Linked DNA regions of Homo sapiens. The gene in region 1 interacts genetically with each later gene. Each region holds a gene or a part of one and is shown on either strand. Other genes may lie near its edges. The genes, in order: AATF, MCM3AP, ATG10 and GFI1B.

Evidence for each region.
Region 2: changes in AATF (region 1) and MCM3AP together harm fitness more than expected from each alone (negative genetic interaction), as found in Homo sapiens cells (one large-scale study listed by BioGRID).
Region 3: of AATF (region 1) and ATG10, changing one suppresses a phenotype caused by changing the other (phenotypic suppression), as found in Homo sapiens cells (one large-scale study listed by BioGRID).
Region 4: changes in AATF (region 1) and GFI1B together harm fitness less than expected from each alone (positive genetic interaction), as found in Homo sapiens cells (one large-scale study listed by BioGRID).

Annotation. Positions count from the first base shown.
Region 1 is NC_000017.11:37,051,660-37,058,989, reverse strand, and holds the end of AATF (protein AATF), read right to left. Parts: intron 6,736-7,330; exon of another isoform or gene 5,828-6,735; intron 2,390-5,827; coding exon 2,326-2,389; 3' UTR 2,119-2,325; downstream 1-2,118. UniProt on the Homo sapiens protein: Part of the small subunit (SSU) processome, first precursor of the small eukaryotic ribosomal subunit.
Region 2 is NC_000021.9:46,244,112-46,251,441, reverse strand, and holds part of MCM3AP (germinal-center associated nuclear protein), read left to right. Parts: exon of another isoform or gene 1-1,856; intron 1,857-4,555; coding exon 4,556-4,814; intron 4,815-5,037; coding exon 5,038-5,135; intron 5,136-6,244; coding exon 6,245-6,635; intron 6,636-7,330.
Region 3 is NC_000005.10:82,050,821-82,058,150, reverse strand, and holds part of ATG10 (ubiquitin-like-conjugating enzyme ATG10), read right to left. Parts: intron 2,920-7,330; exon of another isoform or gene 2,817-2,919; intron 1-2,816. UniProt on the Homo sapiens protein: E2-like enzyme involved in autophagy. Acts as an E2-like enzyme that catalyzes the conjugation of ATG12 to ATG5. ATG12 conjugation to ATG5 is required for autophagy. Likely serves as an ATG5-recognition molecule. Not involved in ATG12 conjugation to ATG3.
Region 4 is NC_000009.12:132,987,009-132,994,332, reverse strand, and holds the end of GFI1B (zinc finger protein Gfi-1b), read right to left. Parts: intron 7,052-7,324; coding exon 6,914-7,051; intron 6,137-6,913; coding exon 5,865-6,136; intron 5,273-5,864; coding exon 5,135-5,272; intron 4,658-5,134; coding exon of another isoform or gene 4,592-4,657; coding exon 4,426-4,591; intron 3,596-4,425; coding exon of another isoform or gene 3,576-3,595; exon of another isoform or gene 3,494-3,575; intron 3,462-3,493; coding exon 3,283-3,461; 3' UTR 2,646-3,282; downstream 1-2,645. UniProt on the Homo sapiens protein: Essential proto-oncogenic transcriptional regulator necessary for development and differentiation of erythroid and megakaryocytic lineages.

The DNA.
Region 1 (7,330 bases):
TTTTAAGTGTTTTTTGTTTGTTTGTTTGTTTTTTTCCAGAAGGAGTCTCACTCTGTCACCCAGGCTGGAGTGCAGTGGCGTGATCTTGGCTCACGGCAACCTCCACCTCCCGGGTTGAAGCGATTCTCCTGCCTTAGCCTCCCAAGTAGCTGGGATTACAGGCACATGCCACTACACCCGGCTGATTTTTGTATTTTTAGTGGAGACTGGGTTTCACCATGTTGGCCAGGCTGGTCTCAACCTCAAGTGATCCACCCACCTCGGCCTCCCAAAGTGCTGGGATTACAGGCATGAGCAGAAGCGCCTGGTCTTAAGTGTTTTTAAAATTAATAGTTTAAATTGACAAACATAATTGTATCCACCTATAAGGTATAATGTGATGTCTTGATAGTGTATATACAACGTAGAACGATTAAATCAAGCCTGTCCATGTATCCATCACCTCACTTATCATTTTTTATGGTGAAACATTTGAAATTTACTGAGTTACTCTGAAAAATACATTATTGACTATAGTCACCCTGCTGTATAACAGATCTCAAAACTTCCTCCTCTGGCTGGGAACGGTGGGTCAAGCCTGTAATCCCAGCACTTTGGGAGACCGAGGTGGGCGGATCACTTGAGGTCAGGAGTTCGAAGCTAGCCTGGGCAATATGGTGAAACCCCATCTCTACTAAAAAAAAAAAAAAAAATCAGCTGGGCGTGTTGGCAGGGGCCTGTAATCCCAGCTACTTGGGAGGCTGAGTCAGAAGAACTGCTTGAATCTGGGAGGCGGAGGTTGCAGTGAGCCAAGATTGTGCCACTGCACTCCATCTCTAAATAAATAAATAAATAAATAAATACATACATAAACAAATACTTCCTCTGACGTGAAACTGTAGTCTTTGACCAACATGTCGCATTCCCTGCTCCCCCACCCCCCTCAGCCTCCGGTAACCACCATTCTACTCTTTAGTTCCATGAGTTGGCCTTTTGTAGATTCCACGTATAATTGAGATCAGGGGGTCTCTGTCCTTCTGTGCTTGAGTCATTTCACTCGGCATAATGTCTTCCAGTTCAACCACATTGTCGCGAGTGTCAGAATTTCCTTCTTTCTAAGGCTGAATACCCCTTATCCATGTAAGAAACCCAAAAGCAAGAAAACAAATAACCCATTTCAAAAATGGGCAAAGAATCTGAACAGATATTTCTCAAAAGAAGACATACAAATGGCCAACAGGCTTATTAAAAAATTATCAGCCCCACTAATCATTAGGGAAATGCACAGAAAAACCACAACGAGGCCGGGCGTGGTGGCTCATGCCTGTATTCCCAGCATTTTGGGAGTACGAGGTGGGCAGATCACAAGGTCAGCAGTTCAAGACCAGCCTGGCCAATATGGTGAAACCCCGTCTCTACTAAAAATACAAAAATTAGCTGGGCATGGTGGCGAGCACCTGTAATCCCAGCTACTCAGGAGGCTGAGGCAGGAGAATTGCTTGAACCTGGGAGGTGGAGGTTGCAGTGAGCCGAGATTGTGCCGCTACACTGCAGCTCGGGAGACAGAGCAAGACTCAGTCTCAAAAAAAAAAAAAAAAAAAAAAAAAGATAAAAGAAAAAAAAAACCACAATGAGACATCACCTCAGACCTGTTATAATGGCTACTATCAAAAAGATGAACCCCTAAAATGTATACAACTATTATATGGCAATAAAAACTTTTTTTAAAAAAGATGAAAGTTAACAAGTGTTGGTAAAGACGCGGAAAAGGGAGCTCTGGCACGCTGCCGGGGTGAACGTGGACTGGTACAGCCATTATGGAAAACTGTAAGGAGTTACTAAAAAAACTAAAAATTCAACTATCCTACGATCAAGCAATCCCATTTCTGGGTATATATACAGATCAACGGACATTACTGTGTTGAAGGGACACCTGCACTCCCACGTTCATTTCACCCACAACAGCCACGCTATGCAAACAATCTACATGTCCGCCAGGGTGAGTGGGTCAAGGAAACGTCAAGTCTGACATTGTATGAGGAGGCCACTGGACTAGAAAAAAAAAAGCTCAGTAAATGTGTCATCCACTAGAACCAAACCAGACTGACTCTCAGCCTCTTAAGAAATCACAAGCGGTGGTGGCGGTAACAATGCTCTTTATTTGTGGCGTTTAAAGGCGGGGTTGGGCGGGACAGCGCCCTTGCGTGTATTAGGCACAGGTTCGGAACGCAGCATCTTTCCAGGGGCTTCCCTACTAGCTCAGCCCCATAAAGTCACTGGTTTCCTCCATCTGGACCAGCAGCCGCACCAGCCAAGGCGCCCACTGGGTGTCGGAGGTGGGCGATGTCAATCCCCGTGGCCTTCGTCGGGAGGGTGGAGCTGGCCAAAAAGAGAGCGGTACAGTTCTGTCCTAAAAGACAAACACAGCAAACTGGTTAACACACTGGTTCACTATTCAAGGTTAAAAAGGAACGCAGAAGCTGGAAAATACCCCATTCTGTTTCTTCTGTTGAAAACACAGCCATGTAATTAAAAATGCACCCCACAGCTCTTACTCACAAATACAACAGAAGGAAGAAACCCAATCAAACAGTAAAATATGTAAATGGTCCAGTGCGGCTGGACACCCGTCTCCAGGGAATGAGTGTTCTGTAAGTTTGCCCTTTGCAGACAGGCTCTTCAAGTAAGAAAACAAGATTGAATATTTTAATAGGATGTAGGAGACCGCCATCCGATGAGGAGGATTCAATCAGACATGGGATGTAGGGGGATATAATTTAGTTTTCATACATTTTCTTGGACTTGGCAGTACTTGAAAAACAATGAAAATGAGCCAGCAACACGATTCCAATTACTATCATCTGTGCAGTTGTTCAGGAAGAGAACCAAGCTTCTTCCACACTCCCCAGCTGCCCTGTCTCTATTCTCAGTCTAATAAATAATATGATTGGCTAATTTATTTCTAAAGTTGGGTTTTGACATTAAAACAATAACATGCCAGGGTCTTGGGCCCCTAAAAAGAAAAGTAAATGACCACTTTCAAACTCTTTTAAATGCAACATACACACAAACATCGGCCAAAGCCATGTGTCAAGGCCTGGAAAACCTAAAAGGGGTGTGGGTGGGGCAGGGATCTTTCCTATCGTTGAGACAGAAGCTCCAGAACACTTTCCCCTGTGGATACAGAGCAGATCCTCCCTGCAGAGACATGAGGGACCCATGAGGTTCCAAGCAGGCAAGACCCGTGTGAGGACGTCCCTGTCATCAGGGAGGTGGGCGTGTAGCACGTGGCCGCAGAGGCAGCCATCCATGTCCACGCCCTGCAGAAGGCCCAGCCGGTAGCCCTCACAGAGACAGGGCAGGCGCACACAGGGCTGAGGTCATGGGCCAGGAGCCCCAGAAGAAATCTACACCTGCTCGGATATTCTCAAGATGGAACTCAAATTCCAGCCTGCCGTCTTGTTTTAAAAGTGCTCTCATCATCTGAGGGTCAGCATCGGCACATCAGACTTTAAAAGCAAAACCAAAAAACCCCACCTTTCAAACAGCAAGGCTTCAACACAAAAAACTACTGGTCTTTTTTTGAAGTCACCCTACTATAGTTATGGATAGGAATAAAGGTACTACAATTAGGAAATCCAACAAAAGGAATAGAGTATCAAAGCTTTAAAAAAGTCAAAAGAAAAACATCTTAAGGAAGAACTACAGAAGCCACAAATGTAAGCTAGCCTTATCATGTTGGGGACCGCGGGAGGGACAGGCAGTGAAAGTGCAGGCCAGAAAACAACAGGCCTCCAATTTTATTACAGGAATTTTATCCCAAGAATGTGCTGGTGCCTTCACCCTGAACTACCCAGCAGACCCCTAGGCCACAGACAAAGGACACAGCTTCCCCCTTGGCTCCACCCATCTCTTCTGCTCTTCTGTTACACACATCCATGTGACTAGCCTCAATCAGCCCAGACGAAGCCTGCCAAGGTGGACGGCAGCCCCAGACCAAATGCAAACCCACGGCTTCCAAATCAGCAGCTCCGTCACACGGATACTTCGGTGCCCAGGGCAGGCTCCACTTCATCACACCATGGCCTGCCTATTTGCCAGTAAAGACAAGTCTCTCTAGCTGTTTCCACACAAAAAATTAAATGGCGTGAAAGGGAGAGTTGCCATAACAAAAGGACAGTGTGACTTTAGGACAACAACGTCTGATGAGAAAGAAATGCAGAGGCGCGAGGCTAGCCCTTCACATCATACCCTTTCCAGCCTCGCCGCGCTTGCCTGCACCAGACCCCATCATTACCACTGAGCAAATGCTTCCACTCTGCGCGCAATATCAGTGCAACGCCTGGGCCGAAGGCAGCAGTTACTGTCCGCAGCAGGGTTCACGTGTCAGGAGCAGAGAGTGAAATGCTGAAACCCATGTTTTCATAGAACATCATTTCACACTCAGGTGGGCAAAGCTGACAAACATATGCAGCTGTTCATGGCAAAGCAACCTGGGAAGCTGAGTGGTCTGGGTTCTTAAAATATTTTCAGAGAGAGAGAATATCAATAGGGGATTATTTCAATCTAAAAGTCCCCAAGCAATTTCAACTTTTACATCTTCCTCACCCACTATCACCAGCTGGTGACCGTTTTTACCTTCAAAGCATCTCAAACTTCACAGCTCCTCCAGGCTTCCACTAGGTCAGATCTCACCGTTTCTCATGAAGCACACAGCAACAACCTCCTGGCTGACTCTTCCACTCCCTTCTCTGAGACAGACAAAGCAGACCCTCCCTGGGGCCCAGGAGCAGCATGGGGATGAAGATCCCCGCCCCACACGCCCCCCACCAGCCACCCCCACTGTAGATTCCAGCGGTTCAGCTTGGCCTCAGCCCTTCCTCTTTCCAGGTCCTGGCTTTGGCTCCTGCCCTGAGCAGCTGGGTGGTACAGGGAGGCACAGCCCTTCCTCCCTCTTTACTAGGTTGGAGAAGGTAGGGTTGCACATTTTTATAACGTTTTTCACAGTAAGTTTAAATAGTTACAAAATATATAATGACCAGGATGTTGTGAAAATTAACTTTTGTAATGCCTGCAATGGAACCTACATGCCATAATGATTTGATACTCATCGTTCATTCAAGTAACACATAAACTATTTTTTTTTGAGATGGAGTCTCGCTCTGTCGCCAGGCTGGAGTGCAGTGGCGCAATCTCGGCTCACTGCAACCTCCGCCTCCCGGGTTCAATCGATTCTCCTGCCTCAGCCTTCCAAGTAATTGGGACTGCAGGTGCGCACCACCACGCCCGGCTAATTTTTTATTTTTAGTAGAGACGGGGTTTTACCATGTTGGCCAGGATGGTCTCCATCTCTTGACCTCATGATCTGCCCGTCTTGGCCTCCCAAAGTGCTGGGATTACAGGCGTGGGCCACACATAAACTTTTTAACTTGGACATTTTATAGCACCTTTTTCTTTTTAAATTTTATTTCCACCTGACTTTTCCCTACAGAGTTTTGTCCTAATATAATGGTTTCATGCTTGAATGTCTTTTATCAATCACCCTTATCATACTTCTTGGCCACATTAGTCTGTAAATAAAAGCACTTTTGAAATTTTTAAAATTCAAAAAATTGAAATGAAAATATTTTAATTGTTTGACATTATAAGGCTCTAAGTAGTTTAAAAATGTTCCTCTGGATTATTATTAGGATATAATCAATATATAATAATATGATATAATATATCCTAATTTTAGTGAAAATTTAGTATTCATACATGTGTAAAATGTTATTAGAAATGCATCCCTTAATGATATGGATGAGGCTTTTCCCTCCATTTGTTCATGGATCCATGGAGGAATATTATTTATTGCCAGAATGAAGGAGGGTTCAGCATCAATTCTACTCCTATTTTTTTGTTTTTTGTAGACATAAGCACTGAGAAATGTTGTCATATAAACAAGCAGATAGGAATGACAGAGTTCTGGCATAGCAATGCCACTTGATTCTTTTTGCTCTTTCTGAATTATACAGCACACACAAAAAATCGCACAGTGACTCGTCCCCAAACATTAGTCCTAACGGTCAACCAACTGCCAACTCAATTCAACTCGTGTTCTCCAGCGATTCTGCTGGAAGTGAAGACCCAGAAACCACCCGGCCTGCACAGGGCTTGTCCTCTAGTCCTTAGGCGTTTGCTTTCTCAATCTCTGTACCCATATTTCCAGCTGTCCTTGGGTTTGAGGCCCTGGAGGTTTTCCTGTGGCAGCCCGAGGTCCATGTCACTTTAAGGAGGGGCTCGAGGGAGGCTTTTCAAGGCCAGAGAAGGACGAGGGTAAAAGGACAACCTAGCCCTCCAGCACAGGCCTGCTCTGGGGCAGACAGCTTTAGGAAAGAGCGTACGTCTGAAGACTGACTCCTTGACTATCTGTGTCTACCTTCCCCTTGGAAAGTCTCTGCATACCCCAGTGTGAAGACTGAGCCACAGGGTGCACTGAGCTCTTCCTCCCTCAAACCTAGGCAGGTGTCTAGGTGCTTAGGGAAAGGCAAAGACATCTGAAAAGAAACAAAACATGTCCACAGCCCTTACCCCATCCCAAGAAAAACTGCAAGTAAAGACGAGGCTACAAAAAGGTGCCACTGGACAGAGGGCCAGACCGCCTTCCACTGCATAAACATTTCCCCCCGGCTGCATCTTCCTAACTGGGATTTAGCCATGTGGAGAAGCTAAACTATCAATCCTCCAGGTTAACCTTGTTCCATCAGATTCTCCAGGGTAAGTGTGTAGTTTCATACCTGAGGTCCCCTTAAGGCTATGCATAATCAACTTTTTAAAAAAACACATAATTCCTGCTCCCCATCACATTAAGAATCAAGATGCAAATCACTGATCTGTAATACCCCCACCCCCCAGCACACACACACTCATGGTCAGTGGGAGTGTCCACTGTAGACAATGCGTTCATGCTGGTATCATGCAGGGGAGCAGCCTGCGGAGTAATTAACAGGACTTGGACCTGAGGTAGAAGGTCGATAGCAGGGGCTCTTCCTTGAATTAAAATTTAACTTACCCTTTATTGCAAACTACAAAAGCAAGTAATGAGCACTAACATTTTTATTTCTTTTAAACTGTCATTAAGCTGTAGAGGGGATAATTACCTATCTCTAGTGCAGTAAGGTTTTATAACCCTTAGTGAGGCATTTTCTAATTTAATATTTTTACTATATTATCTTAAAACCTGTTTCTAGAAAAAAAAATGATCATGGATTAGCCGCCATTTTCCATAAAGACAGAATGTGCGTGTGTGTGTGTGTGTGTGTGTGTGTGTGTGTCTGTCTGTCTGTCTGTCTGTCTTAGGATTCGGCTTATT
Region 2 (7,330 bases), on another chromosome or scaffold:
TATTCCCTAATGTGGTTTTGAAAGACTGGGAGGCTCAGAAGCAAGTATTATGTCTGTCCGTACATGTCGTTTAAAAAATTTTTTTAAGCCAGTCAAATTGAGTAGTGGGCACCAAGCCCAGCCTGCTTCTTTACTTTTTCTGTTTTAATACTATATATTGGATTTCCTAAATGTAATATGTACACAAAACTTTTAAAAAATGAGGAAATGTAAAAGAAGTATAAAGATGATGATAAGAGCCATCCATGCTCTTGCCATTCTGAGGTAACAGTAACTTCTTGGTGCAAATTCTTCCCTTTTCCTGGGATTACAAAGTCACATTTCATCTACTGGAAATTAGTTTACTGCTGCTGTTACCTTCATTTTCATTTAAGAAAGTAACACTTCCGTGTACTTAAAAAGAAGTCAAATAATGCCACCCACGTGATTTAAAATGAGACATAGTAGCTCCTCCTTCCTCTCTTAACTCCTTTCTTCAGGGCTGCATTTTTCTCCTGTTTCCAGATCACACACTTACACAGCCATTTCTCAGTTTATCCATTTAAATGTTCTCTGCTGACTTCCCATTAATATAAATGTATTAGTTACCTTATTCCTAAATAACTAATTACTCCTAACATAGCAGCTTAAAATAATGTCTGTTATCATGGTATCTGTGGGTCAGGAATCCAGGTGTAGCTTAGCTTGGGTCTTCTGGCTCAAGGTTTCTCATGGGTGGAAATGAAAATGTTGGCTAGGATTGTGGCCTCATCTGAAAGCTTGACTGAAGGGTATCTACTTCCCAGCTCACTCTAGTGAGCTTGTGTCAGGATTCACTTCCTTGCAGGCTGTGGCCAAAGACTTCCTCAGTTCCTGCCACATGGGCCTCTCCCCAGCTGACAGCATGGCAGCTGGCTTTCATCAGAGTGAGCAAGAGGTGAGCCTAGATGGAAGTCTGAGTGTGTTTATAACCTAAACTTAGAAGTGACATCCTGTTGCTTTTGTTGGCTTCTGTCTGTCAGAAGTGAGTGGCTAGGCCCAGCTCACGGGGCAGGAGATCACACGTGGGCATGAACACTAGGTGGAATCAGGGGGGTCCTCTTGGCCACTGCATACCATACTAGGTACAGCGTGGCCTCTTGTGCCATGGTCCTTGCTCGGCCTTCCACGTCTTCCCGGGATAGCTACACTAGCACTTTGTATTACTTCAGTGAGTGGGGTCATATTTTGATGGCTCTGTGACTGCTATTCACCTCAGAACCAGTAGTGTTCTATAACCACAATTATTTTTTTCCTGCAAGAAATAGAGTTGCCTTATTGTCTCACTTAATGTAGTTCTCTTTATCTCTTTAATTTTACTGGGGGGCCGTATATATCTCGGTAGAGTTTTCCAAATGTTCTGTCACTTCACTTGATCCATCCATGTTCCCTCTGTCCTGGAACTCTCATCTGTGGGCTGGTCTCCATCCAGGCAACATGTGCCTTAGTGCCATCATTGTGAGCATATGTGTCCCTGCTCCTCCACTTGGAAGCTCTGTGACCTTGGGCAAGTTCCCTAGCGTCTCTGCCACCTGTGTATGGGTACTGTTACTTATTATCCCTATTTTACTCAGAGACGGTAAAATAAACTGCCCAAGCCTCTGCAGGTGCTGTCTGGTGGAGATGCTCATCTGGCTCTTGAGGATAAAATGAGTGCAAACACAGACTGCACAGGACAGTGCCTGGCACAGGCCAGGTGCTTGCTCAGTGTTGCCATTAGCAGCAGCTGCAGTATTTTTTCTTGGTTCAGCCCCTTGTTGGATGTTATATGTCATGCGAGGGGAATTTTCTGAGTCTTTTCCATTATGAAAATGATTTTATTAACAAAATACCTTAAGCTGGGGGAAAGAAAAAGAAAATGCATTTATTTCATTCTGACATTTGCTTCATAGTTTAGCTACGTTTGTAAAATTATAGGTAGAAAATTATTTTCCTGGCCGCGCATAGTGGCTTATGCCTGTAATCCCAGCACTTTGGGAGGCCGAAGTGAGCGGATTGTTTTGAGTGCAGGAGTTCGAGACCAGCCTGGGCAACGCGGTGAAACCCTGTCTCTATAAAAAATACAAAAATTAGCTGGGCATGGTGGTGTGTGCCTGTAGTTCTAGTAGCTTGGGAAGCTGAGGTGGGAAGATTGCTTGAACCTGGGAGTTCGAGGCTGCAGTGAGCCGTGATCGCACCACTGCACTCCGGTGTTGACAGAGGAAGACCCCGTCTCAAAAGAAAGAAAATTATTTGCCTTCCAGTTTTGCTCCACTGTCACCTAGCATCCATTGTTGCTGTACCATTCCTGTTCCTTTCTGTGTGGCCTGGTTTTCTCTGTGGAAGCCTTTTCTCTCTGTTCATGGCGTCCTAAAAATTCACTTTGTTACACTGGCACTGGACTAGCTTCACTCACTGTGCAGGGCTTAGCAGGTCCTTTCAGGCTAGAGACTCCTATTTCACTTCTGGGACATTTTCATGTCTTTATGACACTCTGTCTTTTTTCTGTTCTCTCTTGAACTTCTATTAGATAGATGTTAGGCCTCATCAATTGATCCTCTGAGTTTCTTATCCTATTTTCTATCCTATTTTCAATCTCATCTCTTCCTACTGTGTTCTGAAAGAGTTCCTTGACTTTATTTTCCAATTGTCCTACTGAATTTTTTATTCCATATATATTACTTATTTCCTCTTTCTTTTTATCATGACTTTTTCATAGCATCTTATTTTTTGGATGCATCATCTTATCTTTCCAAGGAAATTAGGGTTTTTGGGGTCTAAGTTTTCTTTGGTTCACGTATTATCTGGTTCCTCTTTTTTTTTTTTTTCCTCTCTGTTACTCCAGTTTATCTCTTTTATGTTGGAGGCCCTCCTCAGATGCCTTACCCAAGGCTATCTGTCTATATCTGAGTGAGGCCCTAAAAGGCTAGCCAAGAAGTTCTGTGTTTGGGGTGGGGTGGATGGTAGCTAAATGGCAAGCCAGGCTTTTTGGAGGGACTCCCAAATGTCTGGATCTGGATGGCTGTTCCCTAGACTGTTCAGTTTTTCTGGAAAGGACTTGTGCCATCTGCTTTCTGGGGAGCTGCTGGTATTCTCAGGGTAGGGTTGGGAGTGGTTTGGCGCTGAGTCCCTTCCACTGTGCCTGACCATGGCCCTGCATCTGGATCCTCTCAGGACTCCTGTTCAGGGGCCCAGGGGGACTGGTTTTGCATAGAGGTTGCCTGCAGTGGTGGGTGCCGCCAATAGGGTCAGGCTCTGAACTTCACCTTTGGCTCCTGGTGTCTGCAGCGCCTGGGTATACAGGGCTTTTGCAGGCTCAGTCAACCTGACTCCTTACACACCCACATCTGCAGCCTTTAGGTATGGCATCCTCTGCTTCCCTAACCCAGGGATTGGTCACACCTATTTGCTGCTTTCTAGAAATGTATCAGAATCCCTCATCTGCTGCTGGCTTGCCTTCCCTCTTTCTATTATTATGGGCTTATATTTTTGTTTATTTTTGTAGAGATGGGGTCTTGCTATGTTGCCCAGGCTGGTCTTGAATTCCTGGCTCCTGGCCTCAAACAGTTCTCCTGCCTTGGCCTCCCCAAGTGCTGGGATTACAGTCATGAGCCACTGTGCCTAGCTTTAACTTTTTTATACCTGTTTAAGGTTAATTAAAGTTATAGTAATATGGTCAAACACAATTCTAGCTGGAGGCTAAATTACCTGTTGACCTGGCTGTTTCTTGCACTAATTCTGTTGCATTTATTCTCATTTTTGTTTCTATAAATTTAAAATATGAACATGGGTGGGCGCGGTGGCTCACACCTGTAATCCCAGCACTTTGGGAGGCCGAGGCAGGCTGATCACTTGAGGTCAGGAGTTCGAGACCAGCCTGGCCAACATGGTGAAACCCTGTCTCCATTAAAAATACAAAAATTAGCTGGGTGTGGTGGTGGGCACCTGTAATCCCAGCTACTATCCAGGAGGCAGAAATTGCAGGGAGCTGAGATCGTGCCACTGCAATCCAGCCTGGGCGACAGAGTGAGACTCCATCTCAAAAAATAAATAAATAAAAATAAAATAAAATATGAACATGCCTTATATCTGAAGGGCAGATATAGAAATTATTTTTCTAGGGTGATTGTCCTCTGAATATATGAAGAAACAATGTTATTTGACGTTTTCTTTAAAAAGGAAGTCTGAAGCTAGGCATGGTGGCTCCTCGAACCTGTAATCTCAGCTACTCAGGAGGCTGAACCAGGAGGACTGCTCGAGCCCAGCAATTCAAGACCAGCCTGGGCAACATAATAAGACCCCCTTCTCAAAAAAAAAAAAAGGTTGAGGGGAGTCTTTGCTAACAATTGGATTTAGGGAAAGAGGGGCCAGGAATTAAAATAACTACAGGAAGTAAGATAACTACAGGGTATGCCCAGCTGTGCCCTTGGAGGCCTGTCTGGAGTACAGTCAGTATTTAGTGCACGGAGAGCTTTGGCTGCACTTGCTCTGGGGCAGATCAGTCACTGCTGATGCGTCCCATGGTGCATCTCTCCTGATGATCTTGATGCTGTTGCAGGTGGCCCATGGCGCCCTCAGTGATGGTGCCATTGATGCTGTGGAGACACAGAAGGACCTCCTGGGAGCCAGTGGGCTCATGCTGCTGCTTCCCCCCAAAATGAAGAGTGAGGACATGGCAGAGGAGGACGTGTACTGGCTGTCGGCCTTGCTGCAGCTCAAGCAGCTCCTGCAGGCTAAGCCCTTCCAGCCTGCGCTTCCTCTGGTGGTTCTTGTGCCTAGCCCAGGAGGGGACGCCGTTGAGAAGGAAGTAGAAGATGGTTTGTGAAGGAAGTCTCGTTTATGAAGCAGCATTGTTTAATAAATGGGTGGAGGCCCTGGGTCTGAGGATGGTCCAGTAGTGTTGGGGTCAGGAATCACTGAGACAGCAACCCCTGTGGTGACTGTCCACTGCAGGACTGGGTGGGGTCAGCACAGTGAGATATGTTAGCAGGTGTGCTGACAGCAGAATGCAAGTGACCTTCATCTATGTCTGTCTTAAAGGTCTGATGCTACAGGACTTGGTTTCAGCTAAGCTGATTTCAGATTACACTGTTACCGAGATCCCTGATACCATTAATGATCTACAAGGTTCAACTAAGGTAAGGTTTCATCATTTTTAATGGTCTGTCAAGATATTTTGTTTTTTCCCCTTTTGCTGTATCTTGAATTGAGTGTATATTAGCGTTTGCATTGTCTTTTTCTTAAGAGACAGGGTTTTATTGTCACCCAGTATAGTGGCATGATGATAGCTCCCTGCAACCTCAAACTACAGGGCTCATGCAATCTTCCCACTTCAGTCTCCCAAGTATATGGGACTACTGTGGTGTGCCACTGCGCCTGGCAGCAGTTGTATGTTTTATACAGATAACTTTCTAAAAACATAAGCAGAAATCAAAATAAAAGATAAAATTTGCCCACAGTCCTGCTATCTGCAAATTAAATTGTTCATGTAAAATTTTTTAGTGTTTTTGTTTCTATGAATTTAAAATATGAACATGTCTTATATCTGAAGGTCAGATACAGAAGTTATTTTTCTAGGGTAATTGTCCTCTGAATATATGAAGAAATAATGTTATTTGATGTTTCCTTTAAAAAGGAAGTCTGAAGCTGGGCGTGGTGGCTCCTCGCACCTGTAGTCTCTGCTACTCGGAGGCTGAAGCAGGAGGACTGCTTGAGCTCAGGAGTTTGAGACCAGCCTGGCCAACATAGCAAGACCCCCTTCTCAAAAACAAAAAAAATAGGGCAGGGGGAGTCTTTGCTAACAATTTAGAGAAAGAGGTGCCAGGAATTAAAATAACTATAGGAAGTAAGATAACCATAGGGTGTGAAGGCACCTTGGCACATAGTGAAGCTGTTAGTCCTTCCAAAAAGGAGAAGACTCCATTTCTGTGCATGGTGAAGGGGATGTTCAGGGCTGGTTTCCTGAGGGCCTGGGCCTTTCCATGGGGCAACCATGCAGGTCACACTCCTCCTCAGGCCAGGTGGGATCTGGGGGCTCTCTTTAGTGCCCCTACTGGACATGTCTCCAGAGCCCTAGAAGGCTAAACTCAACTGCATAGGACACTTCTGTTCCCCTTCCTACCACAGTTGAGAGCCCAGTACTCTGGTATTACCTGCTGTGGGCAACCTTGGGGGATCAAGCCCTTTCAGAAAGCTGTTTTTGAAAAACAGTGTGAATTGTTCAACCAAGTCTCTTCTTTCTTCTCAGGTTTTGCAAGCAGTGCAGTGGCTGGTTTCCCACTGCCCCCATTCCCTTGACCTCTGCTGCCAGACTCTCATTCAGTACGTCGAAGACGGGATTGGCCATGAGTTTAGTGGCCGCTTTTTCCATGACAGAAGAGAGAGGCGTCTGGGCGGTCTTGCTTCTCAGGAGCCTGGCGCCATCATTGAGCTGTTTAACAGTGTGCTGCAGTTCCTGGCTTCTGTGGTGTCCTCTGAACAGCTGTGTGACCTGTCCTGGCCTGTCACTGAGTTTGCTGAGGCAGGGGGCAGCCGGCTGCTTCCTCACCTGCACTGGAATGCCCCAGAGCACCTGGCCTGGCTGAAGCAGGCTGTGCTCGGGTTCCAGCTTCCGCAGATGGACCTTCCACCCCTGGGGGGTACGTGCTTGACCTGGGGAGGTCTGGTGGGTGGCTGCAGCCAAGTCTCAGGCTTCCTTCTCACTGTAGTAACCGTCTGGCAGGTGTTGGGCACCAGTGTGAGGGCTGCACGTCCACCTCCGTGTGTCTCCATGCTGTGCTCGCCTGCACCTTCCTTTGGTCCTTTGGGTTCATGAGCCAGAACAAGCTGGGTTTTGTGGAGTGGGGGCTGTTAGCCTTTCCTGACCAGCAAGGCAGTCCATGGGAGTTCACTCAGCTTCAGGAGAAAAGTGACAAGTGGTACTGGGAGGAACACCAACCCTGATCCTGTCCTGCCTGCCCACAGGGTCCCTGTTTTCAGAACAGACAAGGGGCAAAGAGCATGGGGACCATGTAGCCCTGTCCCCAAGCCGCAGCCATGGCACTCAGTGCTGATTTAACATTCTTTCTTTGTCAAAGAGGCCTTCTTCTATGGCTCTGGCTGTGCCCCTGTTCCTGGCTGAGGTCTTTGGGCTGTTTTGACACAGATCCGACAGGCCATCTGGCTGGCTCAAGCCCAGTATGGCATGGGGCTGCTCCTTCCTATGCACTCAGAAGGGAATGAGCTGCTTATCTGGCAGAAGTTGTGGCATTAGCACAGACACTCCCCTTTGGGCCTCAGGCGCCCTTCTAAATTGTGGTGTGTGGTCTGTAGTAGGTCTAACTCATGCTCATTA
Region 3 (7,330 bases), on another chromosome or scaffold:
CACATAGAGAACAATTTTAGGACTTGAAATAGATCTTGAAGCTGCAAGAAAGCTTCCATTTCAATTTCTTTCTCAAGGCAAGATCTCTATGAAAATGTCCCAGAAAGGTACTTATGCATCTCAGCAACTGCCTGAGTACCTCCAGGAACTGGCCCTTGTTACTCCCTTACACAGCGGTCATTTCCATTTTAGTGCATTGTACATTAAGAAAGTTTTGTCCTGTATTTCACATCCTTTAACTTACTTAGTTCTGCCCTCTGAAGTCTAATCCCTTTTCCACACAGCTGTTCTTCCAAGCGCTGAAGAAATGACCACCATTTGCAAATACTCCTTACAAAATATGGTTTCTGAGCCCTTTACCAGTATTTGTCTCCTGTTTCTTGTACTTGCTCTTAAATACACTAATGAATGATGTTCATCTAATTGTGGCCAGTTCCATTTTTTTAAGGTAACACTTTTTTGAATTCAATAAAGTCATGTGTAAGAATATAATACCTCCCCAAGAACAAACATACATGCCAATAAATATTAATTCCCCACCACATTGTCATACCAACATTTACATTTTAATAGAATTAAAATAATAAGGACTAAGGGGTTAATCTTCCTATAAGAAGAGGGAAATTTGGATGCAGTGACACAAACAGGGAAGAAAGCCATGTGAAGATGAAGACTGGAGCGGTGCATCTAGGAGCTAAAGATTGCCATCAGCCACTGGAAGCTAGAAGCAGTAAGGAATGGTCCTTCCCTAAAGCCTCTGGTGGGAGCAGGACCCTGCCAACATCTTGATTTCAGACTTCTAACCTCCAGAACTGTGAGAGAATAAATTTCTGTTACTTTAAGTCACCCAGTTTGTGGTTCCTTGTTATAACATTCCTAGGAAACTAATACAGTAACTCTATTTTTTAAGACACTTGACAGCACCTTAAGAATGCCTCCCAGTAAGTTGTGCTGACAAACAGCCAGCTCTCACTCAGGGGGCTGCACTGGTTAGTTGTTGATTGGTTAGATCCAACTCATTCTGATTGGTTGATGCCTCTGTCACAGGTTGCTAAATATTTTTAATATCATTCCTGCCTGGAAAGTAGGCCATCAGATATCCAATACTGTCATTTTTAATTATTTCATTAAGGATATCCATTTTGTAGATGGAATTACTGTTTTAAATTCCAGCTCTACACTATCTGACCACAAAGCAGATCCTGTAATGGTCTTCTACCATTGAAACCTTCGTATTTAGAAAAATGTAAATTTAACATTGGCTTAAACTGAGAAAGATATATGTAATGACTGTTGTCATTGCCACTGTTTCACATCAAACATCCATTCTTCCTTCTTTTGGAGCAGTAGTCATTGCTCCTCTAAGGAACAATTGCTCCTCAATTCTCCTGATTGAGAAGGGAATGGTTCCTTAGAGGAGCATTGGCTACTGTTACACTAATTACAGCTCCAGGGATAGACACAGATCTCTGATCCTGCCCATCAGTACTGCCGGCCCCAGAGACTCTGGAGGACAAATGATTACAGCTCCAGGGATAGACACAGATCTCTGATCCTGCCCATCAGTACTGCCGGCCCCAGAGACTCTGGAGGACAAATGATCTACATCACAGCCAATGGGATGAAATTCAGGATTTGGTTTTGGGGGGTTGGGAAAGGTGGCTGTTCTCTTCTCCACTAGGTTTGAGCCAGACAGACCACAAAAAAAAAAAAAAAAAAAACCTGGCAGCCATCATGTAATTAAACGAAGTTGGCTCTGCAACTCAGAGGAAAGCAAGACCATGAGATACAGAGAAACCACATTCTGACTACATTATTTACACCAACCATATCTGAAACTAGTTCTATCTCAGATTTTTCAATTACATGGCCCCAAAAAGTCCCTTCTTTGCTTCACCCAATGGGTTGGGTTTTCTGTCACTTGCAACCAAAATAATTTTGCTATTAAGTAACATAAATTTGTGTTTATTAGTTTAAAAATAGAAGATTTCTATTGTATTGTCAATCTTGAGATAGATAATCAATAGTTGATTATATAAAAGATTTACCATATACAGTCATGCATCACTTAACGGCAGGAATACCTTCTGAGAAACACGTCATTGGGCTATTCTGTCATTGTACAAACATCATAGACTGTGCTTACACAAACCCAAATGGTATGGCCTCCTACATACGTAGGCTATAGACATAGTTGCTTGCTCCTAGGCTGCAAACCTGTACAGCATGTTACTGTATTAATTGCAGGCAATTGTAACAAAATTTGTGTAAAATTTGTAAGTATTTGTGTATCTAAGCATATCTAAACAAAGAAAATGTACAGCAAAAATACAGTATTATAATCTCATGGGAACACTGTACATGTGGTCTGTTCTTGACCGAAATGTCATTATGCAGCATGACTATACGGTAAAACTATAATAGCATGTGTTTGAGAGAAAAATTACCCAAAGTCTGCAATTTCAAAATGATCTAGCCATAGAGATAAAAACCAAAACTCTCAGGATATTCAGAGAACACGGAGCTGCACTGTGTGTACTAAATATAGCTCATTAAATGAGGGTAACTGCTCTATTTTGTATTTTTCAATACCTGAGCCCTGGTCACATAACCTCCTCTTAAGGGAACATAAAATTTAGTAAAATTCTAATAACAATGCAAAATACATCTCCTTTGACATTAAAAGAGGTGAGTCAAAAATTCGTGTGCACCTATGTTATAAAATCTAAATAAATTATCTGGTCTCTTTCCCAATTAGTTAAGATAAAGAGATATGTCACTTTCAATAATACTTATAATTTGAGGAATTTACTTACATTTTAGGTAATTTCTAATACCATTTTTTTATTATCGATACGGAAGTACGCTGGGTTTTTTGCTCTATATTTGGTAGTGGTGATTTTTTTTCAGTATCAATCTTCTCAGTCAAGATTAGCCTTGAAAAATTAAATATAGAGTTTTTTGGATTTTGATTTCCCTTTAAAGACTTCCACAGAACTAGATGTTTCTTCTACTTTGTTTTAATTTAAGGCAGAAAAATATGTTTTGTGCTTCACTGTTGAAGGATGCTTTTTTAGAGACAAGCAAACTCAAAAGCAGGAGAACCACCACTCTTGTCAGCCCTGCAGTCCACCCAGCCCAGGAAAAAACGATGTCAACTCAAATTCCCCCTTGGCAATGAAGTTTTCCTGACCATTCCAATTAACACTCCTCTCTAGCTTCCCTGCATTCTTTTTGTACTTATCATAGCTTACACTTGAACATTTAACTCTTCTTTAATTTTTTAACATTTGTTAGTTTTATTTCTCCCACTAGATCATAAGCTCAGGGCCTAGGCCTCCATCCTCTAAGGGATGACAAGGTCTTTACAGGATCCAGATTCCATCCCACATAACAACCTGATCCAGAAAGAGTCTGAAAACATCCTGGACAAGCATGAGAGGATTTAAAAACAAAGGGAACCTTCAAGTTTATCCAATTCAAGCCTCTCATTTTAGAGATAAGAGGGTGAAGGACTAAAGCACTTCTAAGAAACTTGTCTTACACTAATTAGTTGGAGGCAGAGCAGGAAGTGGAAAGCGGATCTCTTGACCTGAGTATTCTTTGTAGTACACTAAGCAAATTCTGCAAGAGAGCAGGACCATGGCTTATTGACTCTCGTGGACTGGTGTGGGCCAGTGCTTTGCACTTCAAGTAACAAACTCAAGCCACTCAAGTGTGGTCTGGGGACCAGCCACAGCATAAGCTGCGAGCTCATTAAGACAGACAGGCAGAATCTCAAGCCTCACCCCAGACCTCCTGATTCTGCATTTAAAACATAATCCCCAGGTGATATGTATGCACATTTTGGAAGCACTGAGGCATGTACTGCAATCCCTGACTCAAAGAGACAGCAAACTGACTACATTAACAATGGTTCTCAATCCAAGCTGCACATTAGAACCACCTGTGGAGTTTTCAAACTGTTGCTGGTGTCTCACCTCAGACCAATTAAGTCAGAATCTACCTAGCAGATTCCAGCACAGCAGCCAGAGTTGAGAACCACTGCACTCAATTCCTTGGAGACCCTCTTTTGAACTCAATGAACAGAGTCAATCAGGTAATCTGCAGCTACCTCAGGAGAGAAGTCCACAAACAACTCAAGATCTTCATGAACACCATAGCTCATCTGGAGTTCTCCAAATGCTAAAATCACCTCTGTTAATGCTCTCTTCTTGGAGCTTTGACCATGCTGAGACTGCCTTTGAAGTGGTCTTTACTACTGCCCGAAAAACTAATTTCTGGCAACTTGGCCAGTCTTGACCTGGCCCTCTGAAACTGCCAGTAGTCTTGTAACTTAAAATTGCTCCAAGTCCAACTACACTTCAGCTATTAGGTCTCCTTGCTGTCCATTCACCACAAAGCATGATGCTTCACTCTGTCACTGTAGAAGAATAATTAATAAGAAATGTCCAGCTGTTATAACCCAAACAACTTTCATTATAAAGAGAATACTTCCTCACAGCCAAAACTCTTCCAGTTATCTAAATAGAATGCCCTTCACCTAAGACCAAAATAAGAAATATTTAAATGAGAAAAAAACCCCAAATATGCTAGATGAAAATATAGGAGAACACATATTTTTTAATATGATAAAAACCCAGAAGTCATAAAAGACTGGTAAATTCTACGGCATGCAACGAATTCTTAACACCATAAAGTCAAAAGACATATCAAAATGTGAAAAAGCATTTGTAGCTCATATCATAGAAAAGAACTAATTTTTTCAATATAAAATAGCTTTAATTTCCTCAAAATATAAATAGTTCCACCAAATCAACAGGAAGGGGTCCAATAGCCCAATAAGAAAATGAGCAAAGGATACACAGATAGTTTACTAAAGAGGAAATACATGTAGATAAAAATATGTTCAATGTTAGCCATAAGAAAAATGCAAATTAAAAACTGTGATAACATTTTTTACCTATCAGATTGGCAAAGATCAAAAAGTATGAAAGGGAATGTATAGACAAAGACATGGATAAAACAAGCAGGCACTCTCATACATTGCTGGGGCAGGGGAGTTAAAATTAGCATAAGATCCCTGAAGAGCAGGTTGGCAAAAACTATCAAAATTTAAAATGCACACACCTTGGATCCAGAAATGTTACTTCTAATAATTTACCTTATGGATATAGTCACATATGTAGTAAATAAAATTCATACAAATGATTATTAACATATTATTTTAATAGTATAAGGTTGGAAACAACCTAAATTTCCATCAGTGAAGATTGGCTAAATAAATTATTTTATGTCCAAATAATGGGATAGTATGTAACCACAAAAATAATGAATGAGTTCTGTAAATATTGAGTAATGACCAAGGCTGACCATTAAGTTATTTTTTAAAGCGCAGAACAGTATGAATATATGCATGCTACCATATGTTTAAATGTAACTGTACAGGCTATGTGTACACTGAATATATCCGGAAAGATACCCAAGACCATGGTATCACTGGCAACCTCTAAAGGTTTGAGTAAGGAAAGTAGAAGGGTTAGAAAGGAGACTTAACTTTTTAATGTAAAACCTCTTTTGTGCCTATAAATACATGGCACTTCATTTTAAACAAATAATTAATTGCCCTTTGCACATATGCCTCCAGGCCACCACATTGCCAGAGTAGATTCCAATCTTAAACTTCTAAGGAGAAAATGTCCTATAGGTCTTATAGAATCCAAGAGAGACAAGCAAGTTTTCTAGTGTAGTGCCGATTGCATTTTGGATGGAGATCTAAGGATTTCCTGATAGAACACGTTTGGGTCTGTTTTAGTACAAGCTGTCATAGGGCTATGCCACCCAGCAAGCTATGTTATGCCTGCTGGAATCCAGCTAACAAAATAATTATAGGGCTTTTGTTGCTGAGTTTAACAAGATCTTCTCTAGACACATCTAAAAGAAAATGGGTGGTTATCTAAGGGTCTAAGCTCTACTTCAGAATAAGGCATTTTATATACGACTTCAACTCAAGTTAACTGCCCAGAATGATCAACTGCAGGAAGGGCTTGACAAGTCCATAAAGGAGGAAGACAACTGAAGTTTCTAGGTCAATGCCAGCACTGATCAAACAAGGCCTTCAAGGTCAGTGGAGCCCTGAGGAATAGGTCAAACCTAGGCCACAGATCTCAAGTGACTGTTCTTTGCTGCTGTAGAAGATCAAACCAATACTATCAGTAGCTGTTCAAAACTGATTAACCTTGGGGTAAAAAGAAGAAACTAGAAACTACTGCTAAGTAGAAAAGTTTATACTAGGTAGGTCGGACATTAAACCAATATCCATCCATTTTTTAAAGTTAAAGGTAAGTAATGTAGGCAAGGAACTGTTATGGATGTAGAAGATCCTCCAGAACACAATGCTGAATGTGTTAATACGACTCCTCCCCATACCCCAAATATCCACCCAATCCCAGTAACACTGACTTCAATTTCTCATAGTGTTACACCTTCCAGATGCATGAGAGGATCCTGGCCAGGGTGAACTCTGATGCCTCTGGTTATGTTATATACAAAGGTAACTTTGTATAAAGAGTGACCAGCTCTAGTCAAAGTGATTCATCAGTACTGCTAGCCTCTGGCTCATTTAGACAAAAACTCAAGAATGAAAGAAAATAAGGAGATAATACATTTCATCTTTGATAAAGAAATTTGCACGTCTTTAATTTTCCCTTGGTCCTGCAGTATTTTGGGATTTATTAAACATGACACCTCATTAATTAAATAGTCCACCCATACCTCAGAACTTCTTGGGGGAAAGGGCTGGAGTTACATCTCAGATACTAAATTCCACTTAAGGAAGCTGAGCCTGTCCTTCTGGGAAAGAATTAAGCCTTCTGGATGCATTCAGCCCAATAGAGGCTAGCACCCCCTCGATTCACCATCTCCATGGTATAATCCACAATTATTGCTTTCATTTCTGTGACCTAATTTGTGAATCCCTACTGAACACATTTGTTCTCTAGCTGGGAATTAAACCACAGAAAAACACTGTGACACTTGATCCTTGATTGGTGGTTTTCTGCCCGTGCACAGTTTAAAAGAGCTTTTTTAATGCGGTCATGGTATGAAACTAAAAGAGAGTTCGTAGAATTGTTTTTTTAACAGATAGGGTCTTACTCTGTCACCCAGGTTAGAGAGCAGTGGCATGATCACAGCTCATTGCAGCTTCTAATTCCTGGGCCCAGGCCATCCTCCTGCCTCAGTCTCTTAAGTAACTAGGACTACACTGCCACATCTGGCTGATTTTTTTTTTTTTTTTTTTTTTTTTTTTTTGGTAGAGATGGGGTCTTGC
Region 4 (7,324 bases), on another chromosome or scaffold:
ACGGGACCACCCTCCCATGCAAATCCCGAGCCCCGAGCCCACCCCGCACACCTGACAGGTTTGCTTAGAGGAATTCTGGCTAAAGGAAACAGGAAGAGCTTCTGGCAGGAAATGGATGTCAGGATTCTGCCTAGCCAAATGCAGAGCCTGGGGGTGGGTGAGAGTTCCATTCCTCTTGGGGGCCCAAGCCCCTTGCACACCAGAGAAGAGACCTGGAAGAAACACTTTTGGGTTTCAGTGGGAGGGAGAGTACACAGACTCCAAAAAGATAGCCTCAACTCGGAATCAGTTTCTGATCCCAGTCCTGCCTTTACCTGCTGTGTGACTTTGGGCAAGTAGGCCAACCTCTCCCTCTCCCTCTCTGGTTCCCAAATTAACCTTAGGAAAACACTGAACACCCAAATCCTCCCCTTGGGGATGGACACATGCGTATCACACGTTATAGGCTCTAAGAAGCAGTTGCAATAGACTGAACGTTAACCCAGAGTTCCTCCCAGTTATTTGAGCAATGTGATCTCTACTCCGTCTAAAGCAAACGAACCCCCGGAGGCTTGTGGCGCACGCCTGGGGAGCACCAGAACGGGTCTGAGGCATGTCCAGCCGGCTCTGTGGGCCTCTCTGGAACCACGAACATGAGTCTGAGGACTTGTCACTCACTCCCCTGATGATCCATTGAACAGCTTCTAGTTTGACCCAGGTTTGAGCTGCCCACAATGGATGCGAATTGGGCGTTTGCATGGGACATTTGCCATTTCATGACAGGTTGAGCCTCATAAGTTGGCATGCAATCAAATACACGTTAAACAAGTCAGTTCATGAACCGACAGAAACCATCGGACGATAGTGGCGTTTCTTTGGAAAGAATCCTTCTTTCTCTAGGAAAGAGGGTCTCTCTGTGGGTCCCAGCTCTGGTCTACTCTTGGCATCCCTGTCTCCCTGGGGGTATTCCAGCTTTCTGTGCTCTGCTAGAGGAAGGCACCTGAGCACACCTGGAAAGGGTAAGCCCTAGTATCTATGTTTGTTTGTTTGTTTGTTTCCGAGATGGAGTCTTGCTCTGTTGCCCAGAGCTGGAGTGCAACGACAACATCTCGGCTCACTGCAACTTCCACCTCCCAGGTTCAAGCAGTTCTCCTGCCTCAGCTTCCCAAGTAGCTGGGTTTACAGGCACGCGCCACCATGCCCAGCTAATTTTTGTATGTTTAATAGAGACAGGGTTTCACCATGTTGGCCAGGCTGGTCTCGAACTCCTGACCTCAAGTGATCTGCCCGCCTCAGCCTCCTAAAGTGCTGGGATTACAGGCGTGAGCGCCTGGCCCATATCTGTGTTTTTTTTTTATGTTTGACCTCTCTGGGCCTCAGTTGCCCCATCTGTAAAATGGGAGAATGGCATTCCATTGCAGAAGGTTGTGTGGGTTAGAGACAATGTATGGAAACCCTTGGCTTAGCTCAGTACCTGCAAGTTCATTCAGAGGTGTCCATGGCTGTGGGCCAGGCACAGGATTGGTGTGGGATGGGGGGTGGGGTGCGGCTGGAGCTCAGACAGAAGACCTCCTGAAGTTATCCACACATAACTGCATTCCACATTCAATGGCTCCTAAGCTGTAAGCAAAGAGACTGAGTTGCTCGGTATCAGAGGAGAGAGAAGACCTTCTGGCTGGATGACCCAGGGAGGCTTCATGGAGGAGATGGCTAAGTGGGCCTTGTAGGATGGACAGGACTTCAAAAAGGAATGTTCACAACTCGGCAGCACTTACTACGTGCTGGGCTGGACCTGTATGCCACTTTGTAAGAATGGTCTCAGCGAATCGGTGGAAGGGACTGCTGTGTTTACCATTTTACAGAGGAGGAAGCTGAGCCCCAGAGAGGTTCAGGAACTCACCTGAAGTCACACAGCTAGACAGGTGTGGCACCAGGCTCAGCTTCATCACACCTGCAAAGTCCCTTTTACCCTATAGCGTCACACTCATAGGTTCCAGGGTTAGGATGTGGATATCATCTTTGGGGCCATTATTCAGCCAATCACGGTGATTACGTTCAGGATCTTGAGATGGGATGATTTATACCTGAGCTCAGTGTAATCAGAAGGGTCTTTATAAGAGAGAGGCAAGAAGGTTGAAAGCAGAAGACAGAGATGGAGGCAGAAGCAGAGATCCAAGTTATGTGCTTTGAAGGCAGAGGAAGGGGCCAAGATCAGAGGCACAGACGGCCTTGGGAAGGTGAGAGACAGGAAAACAGACTCTCCTGGGAGCCTGCTGCAGGAATGCAGTCCTGCTAACACCTTGATGTTAGCCCCATGAGACTCATTTTGAGTTTCTGGCCTCTAGAATTTAAGAGAATAAATGTGTGTTGTTTTAAGCCACTAAGTTTGTGGTCATTTGTCACAGCAGCCACAGGAAACGGATACCGCCCCAGCTGCACTAGCCTTGCCCACCCCTGTGGTCTTGTCGCACGGGCCCCTTCTGCTTGCTCCTGGCTCGTCAGCGGGTCTGTGCACGTGGGGGCTGAGTACACTTCTCCACAACTTGCCTATGAGCACCTCCATGGCTTTCTCTGCTCCTCAAGCCTCCCCGCATCACTCCCCAAAGCCTCGTGCAGTACCCTGGACCTCATAGGCACTTAATAAATGCTGGTCACATGGCAGCAAATCTGTATCTTTAATTTTATTGACAGCAGTTGAGAGAACAGGCTTTTGACAGCAATAACTGCCAGTTTCTCCAGCCTCACGGCCTGGTTGTGGAGCTAGAATCCCCAGAGGCCAGCTGAGTGCTGGTCGGAAGTCGGAGTCAGCCAGCACATCTGGCCGAAGCAGAGGGGGTGCCAGGCTTCTGACTGGGGTGGGAGGCAGCTCCGACTCTGCCTGTTATAGCCAGAAAGAGGCCGGCTAAAATCCAAGGTGACCAGGTCCCAGCTCAGTGGGCAGCAGGCAGGTGGAGGTTCTGTCTGTGGGTCCCAGCTCTGGTCTACTCTTGGCATCCCTGTCTCCCTGGGGGTATTCTAGCTTTCTGTGCTCTGCTAGAGGAAGGCACTTGAGCACACCTGGAAACAACTTCTGCTGAGAAAGACCCAGCCAGGCTCCCACACTTGGCAGCAGGAGAAATGTTGATCCAGACAGGGTAAGTGACTTGCCCAAGGTCACACAGCAATTTCATGAGTCTCAAAACAAGCTGGTAGACTCCTGTCCAGTCCCACCTCCAGGAGACTGGAGATTTGGGCATGTGAGGCTGGCCTCCAGGTGACAGGACCGCAGGGCAGGCTGGCCAGGAGCTGGGAGCCGGCGCAGCCTCACTTGAGATTGTGCTGGCTCTCGCGGTGCCGCCGCAGGTCCACCTTGCGCTGGAAGCCTTTGGTGCACAGCTCACAGCTGAAGGGCTTGAAGCCTGTGTGCTTGCGGCTGTGGGTGATGAGGTTGGAGCTCTGGCTGAAGGCCTTTCCGCACACCTGGCACTTGTGCGGCTTCTCACCTGCAGGGAGGGCAGCGCAGCACAGCAAGGGCGGGGTCAGGGCCTCCTCACCAGGCCTGCTGCTCCCCTGCCCTGCCCCCGGGTTCATTTTCCAATACCTTCCTGTGTTTTCTCTCATGGCCAACTCACATTCACTTTAGAAAATAATTAGAAAAGAGAGAGAAGCAAAGATACAACTTGGACCCTCCTCCACCCCTACTGGATTATAGGGTGGTTAGGGGCAGCTGCCGAGTCATCTTGTTTATCAATACATCTCCAAGCCTGGTATACCTGGCACAAAAGAGGCACTCAGCTAATAGCAAGGAGGCAATGAATAAGCAAGTGAATGAATGAGTGAAGGAATGAATAAGCAAATGAATGAGTGAACAAATGAATGAGCAAATGAGTGAGCGAATGTGTGAATAAATGAGCAAATGAGTGAATGAGTGAACAAATGAATCAACAAATGAATGAATGAGTGAACAAATGAATGAGCAAATGAGTGAACAAATGAATGAATGAGTGAACAAATGAATGAGCAAATGAGTGAACAAATGAATGAATGACTGAACAAATGAATGAGCAAATGAATGAGTGAACAAATGAATGAGCAAATGAATGAATGAGTGAACAAATGAATGAGCAAATGAGTGAGCGAATGTGTGAATAAATGAGCAAATGAGTGAACAAATGAATGAGCAAGTGAGTGAGTGAATGAGTGAACAAATGAATGAGCAGTTCGCCTGCTAGTCTCATGTCTGCCATGAGATCAACAGTGTTGAGATTTTGCTGTTTCCTCCCTGTATTTTTTTCCATGCATTAAGTGCACTTAAGTAGCACAGGTGCCCAGCCCTCCATCAGCAGTGGCCTTTGACTTTGTAACTAGACCCCGCCCCCAGCCTCACGCTGGGGGCCTCTGATGCATCTCTCAGGGAAAGGTGGGGGTGCTCTGCCCAGGGGGCACAGGCAGGTGAGACTCACTCACCTGTGTGGATGTAGGTGTGCTTCTTCATGTCGGACTTCTGGTGGAAACGCTTGCCGCAGAACTGGCAGGGGTAGGGCCGCGTGTCTGAGTGGATGAGCAGGTGGGTGGACAGCGTGGACGAGCGCTTGAAGGCCTTGCCGCACATGCGGCACTCGAAGCTGCGCTCCTGCCGGAGGAAATGAGGCCCCGGGGGGTCAGGTGCAGGCTCAGGACTGGACCCGGCCGGGATCCCCTGCGGAACAGGACACTCCATTGGGGCGGCCTGGAGGAGCAGGACCGGGGGACCCCTCATCTCTGCCTCTGAGGTGAAACTGGGGCTTGGAGTCTCATTGGTCTCCTGTGGGATTTTTCCTTGTAATCTTCACGGTATCCCGCTCAAAATAAACCTCAATAAATGTTCGTTGATTGACTGATGGACTGACTGATCTCAGAGGTTCTTTAGGGGTTCACATTTCATGACCATTAACCTAGAGTGAGTTCCTTGAGGCAGGGATGGTTGTGGTCTGCACGGTGGTTTAGTTAAGAGTCTGAAGTTTGTTAAGGGCAGGTGTTGGAGACCCAGACCCAGGGAGGTGGGTACTAGGGGACCCCTCCCAATCTGTGTCACCCCCAGGGGCAGGGGGAGGGACCCAGCCACAGCCCCCAGGCTCCCTGGGGAAGCACAGAGAAGGAGTGGGGCTGGGAGTCCTGCGCTGGGCCAGGTGCCCACCTGGGAGTGGACGTGCGTGTGCTGCTCCAGGCTCACAGCGTGGCCGAAGGTTTTGCCGCAGATGTCACAGGCGAAGGGCCGGGTCCCACTATGGGAGCGTCGCACATGCACTTCGAGCCCGTGAGGGGTGGAGAAGACCTGGGAGCAGGGGCAGCATGTGAGGCCACTGGGGGCTGCGGTGACAGGGACAGGCCTGGGGTCCCATGGTCTCTTCCATGCCCAGCTCTGGCCAAGGCTGGGTACACAGAGTAAGGGGCACTGGATTGCCAGTTCTGCTGCTTGCTTGCTGTGTGTCCCAGGGAGGTCCGTTTGCCTCTCTGTGGCTCAGTCTCCCTTCTACAAAGTTGGATGTGAGAGAGGGGATCTGGAGGCCCCTCCTTGCCTCATCTAGAGGCTGAATAGCCCAGTGGTTAAGAGCTGGGAGTTGGCCGAAGCTGGGTTTGAATGCTGGTTCTGATATCTACTTGCTGTCTGATCCTGGAAAAGTGACTTAACCTCTCTGAACCTTAACCTTTCATCTGACTCTGGCACTCATGCCTGTCAATTGCTTAGCACAGGGCCAGGCACGTGGTCAGAGCTCAATGAATGGTGATGAGGATGAACGTTTTGAATCCTTAATCCCACCAGAGCCCCAACATTCACAGCACAGAGAACGCCCAGAGCTGCCAGTGAGTTGAGAGGGAGTGCGGAGAGGAGGGCCCAGGTGCCCACCACACCCCCCGCTGCCCACCTTGTTGCACTTCACACAGTGGTACGCATCCATGCCTGGGGAGTAGCGGAGGCTGAAGTCCAAGGCGGGCTCAGTGCTGGGCACAAGAGGACTGCCGTACAGGCTGACGGAGTGCTCCAGGAAGGCTGACTGCATGGTGGAGGGGGCCTGCCGGTAGCTGTGGCCATAGGTTGTGGCCAAGGTGTCCCAGGAGAAGCTAGGCTTGTAGAATGGGGGTGAGTCGGACAGTGGAGAGTCCCCATCCTGGGGTCGGGACAGCACAATGGGGCCCTCTGTGGAGATAACGACACAGGCCTGGTTACTCATTTAAACACAGGGGGTTGGGCACAGTGGCGTGGCTCATGCCTGCAATTCCAGCACTTTGGGAGGCTGAGGCAAGTGGGTCACTTGAGGTCGGGAGTTCAAGACCAGGCGGACCAACGTGGTGAAACTCTGTCTCTACCAAAAAATACAAAAATTAGCCAGGCGTGGTGGCTCACGCCTATAATCCCAGCTACTAGGGAGGCTGAGGCAGGAGAATTGCTTGAACCTGGGAGGCAGAGGTTGCAGTGAGTTGAGATCGTGCCACTGCACTCCAGCCTGGGCAACAGAGTGAGACACTGTCTCAAAAAATAAAATGAAATAAAATAAACACAGGGCACCCCCTTCCCACCACCCTCTACCACACACCACTACCTTCATCACCTCATGTGGAGGGTTTCAGGGTGTCAACCCAGATACTTACTGCCAGGAATGTCTGGGTCCTCACTGTGGCTCCTCAGCTTTTCCAGCCCAGAGACACCCCCAGCCTCACTCCACAGTGCCCACCTCACTCCCTGCACGGACCGGCCCAGCTGCTGCTTCTGGCCTCTTCTCCCACCTAGCCCACATCCGGGAATTAGCTCCCTGTCTGAGAGGCCCAAGCAGAAGCCACAGAGCCCGGGCTGCATCCAGTGACTTCGTGGGTCCTTCCTGACTCCAGGGCCCCAAGGGGCCCTGCTGCAAGAGTCCCTTCATCCTTCCTCCCCTTGGCACTCCCTGGGGAATGACAGTGGGTCACAGCGGGGTACCTGGTGCCGGGGCCATCCTGGCCAAGTTCTGGTCCTGCTCCAGCTCCGGCTCTCGTTTGAGGTTGGTCCAGTCCAGGCACTGGTTTGGGAATAGAGTGCTAAGGACAGGGCTGTTGCTTGGAGCCTGGTCTCTGGGCACTGTGGGGAGATAGGACCATCAGCATCAATAGCCACGGTTTCTGGGAAGCCCAGAGGGAGCAAGGAGGGCACGCCCTTCCTAGGAGGAGGAGGCCCAGAGAGACAGCCACGTGCCGCTGCTTCTGGCGGCTCACACTCCCGGGCTCTGCCCAGAGCAGGCGGCGGCAAGAAGAGGCCAGGAGGAGACCCCGGGGAAGACTTTGGACCAGTCTGTTTTTCTGAGCAACCCAACTCCAGCCCTAGACTGGGCCTCCAGTGAGGCCCCACATGCCA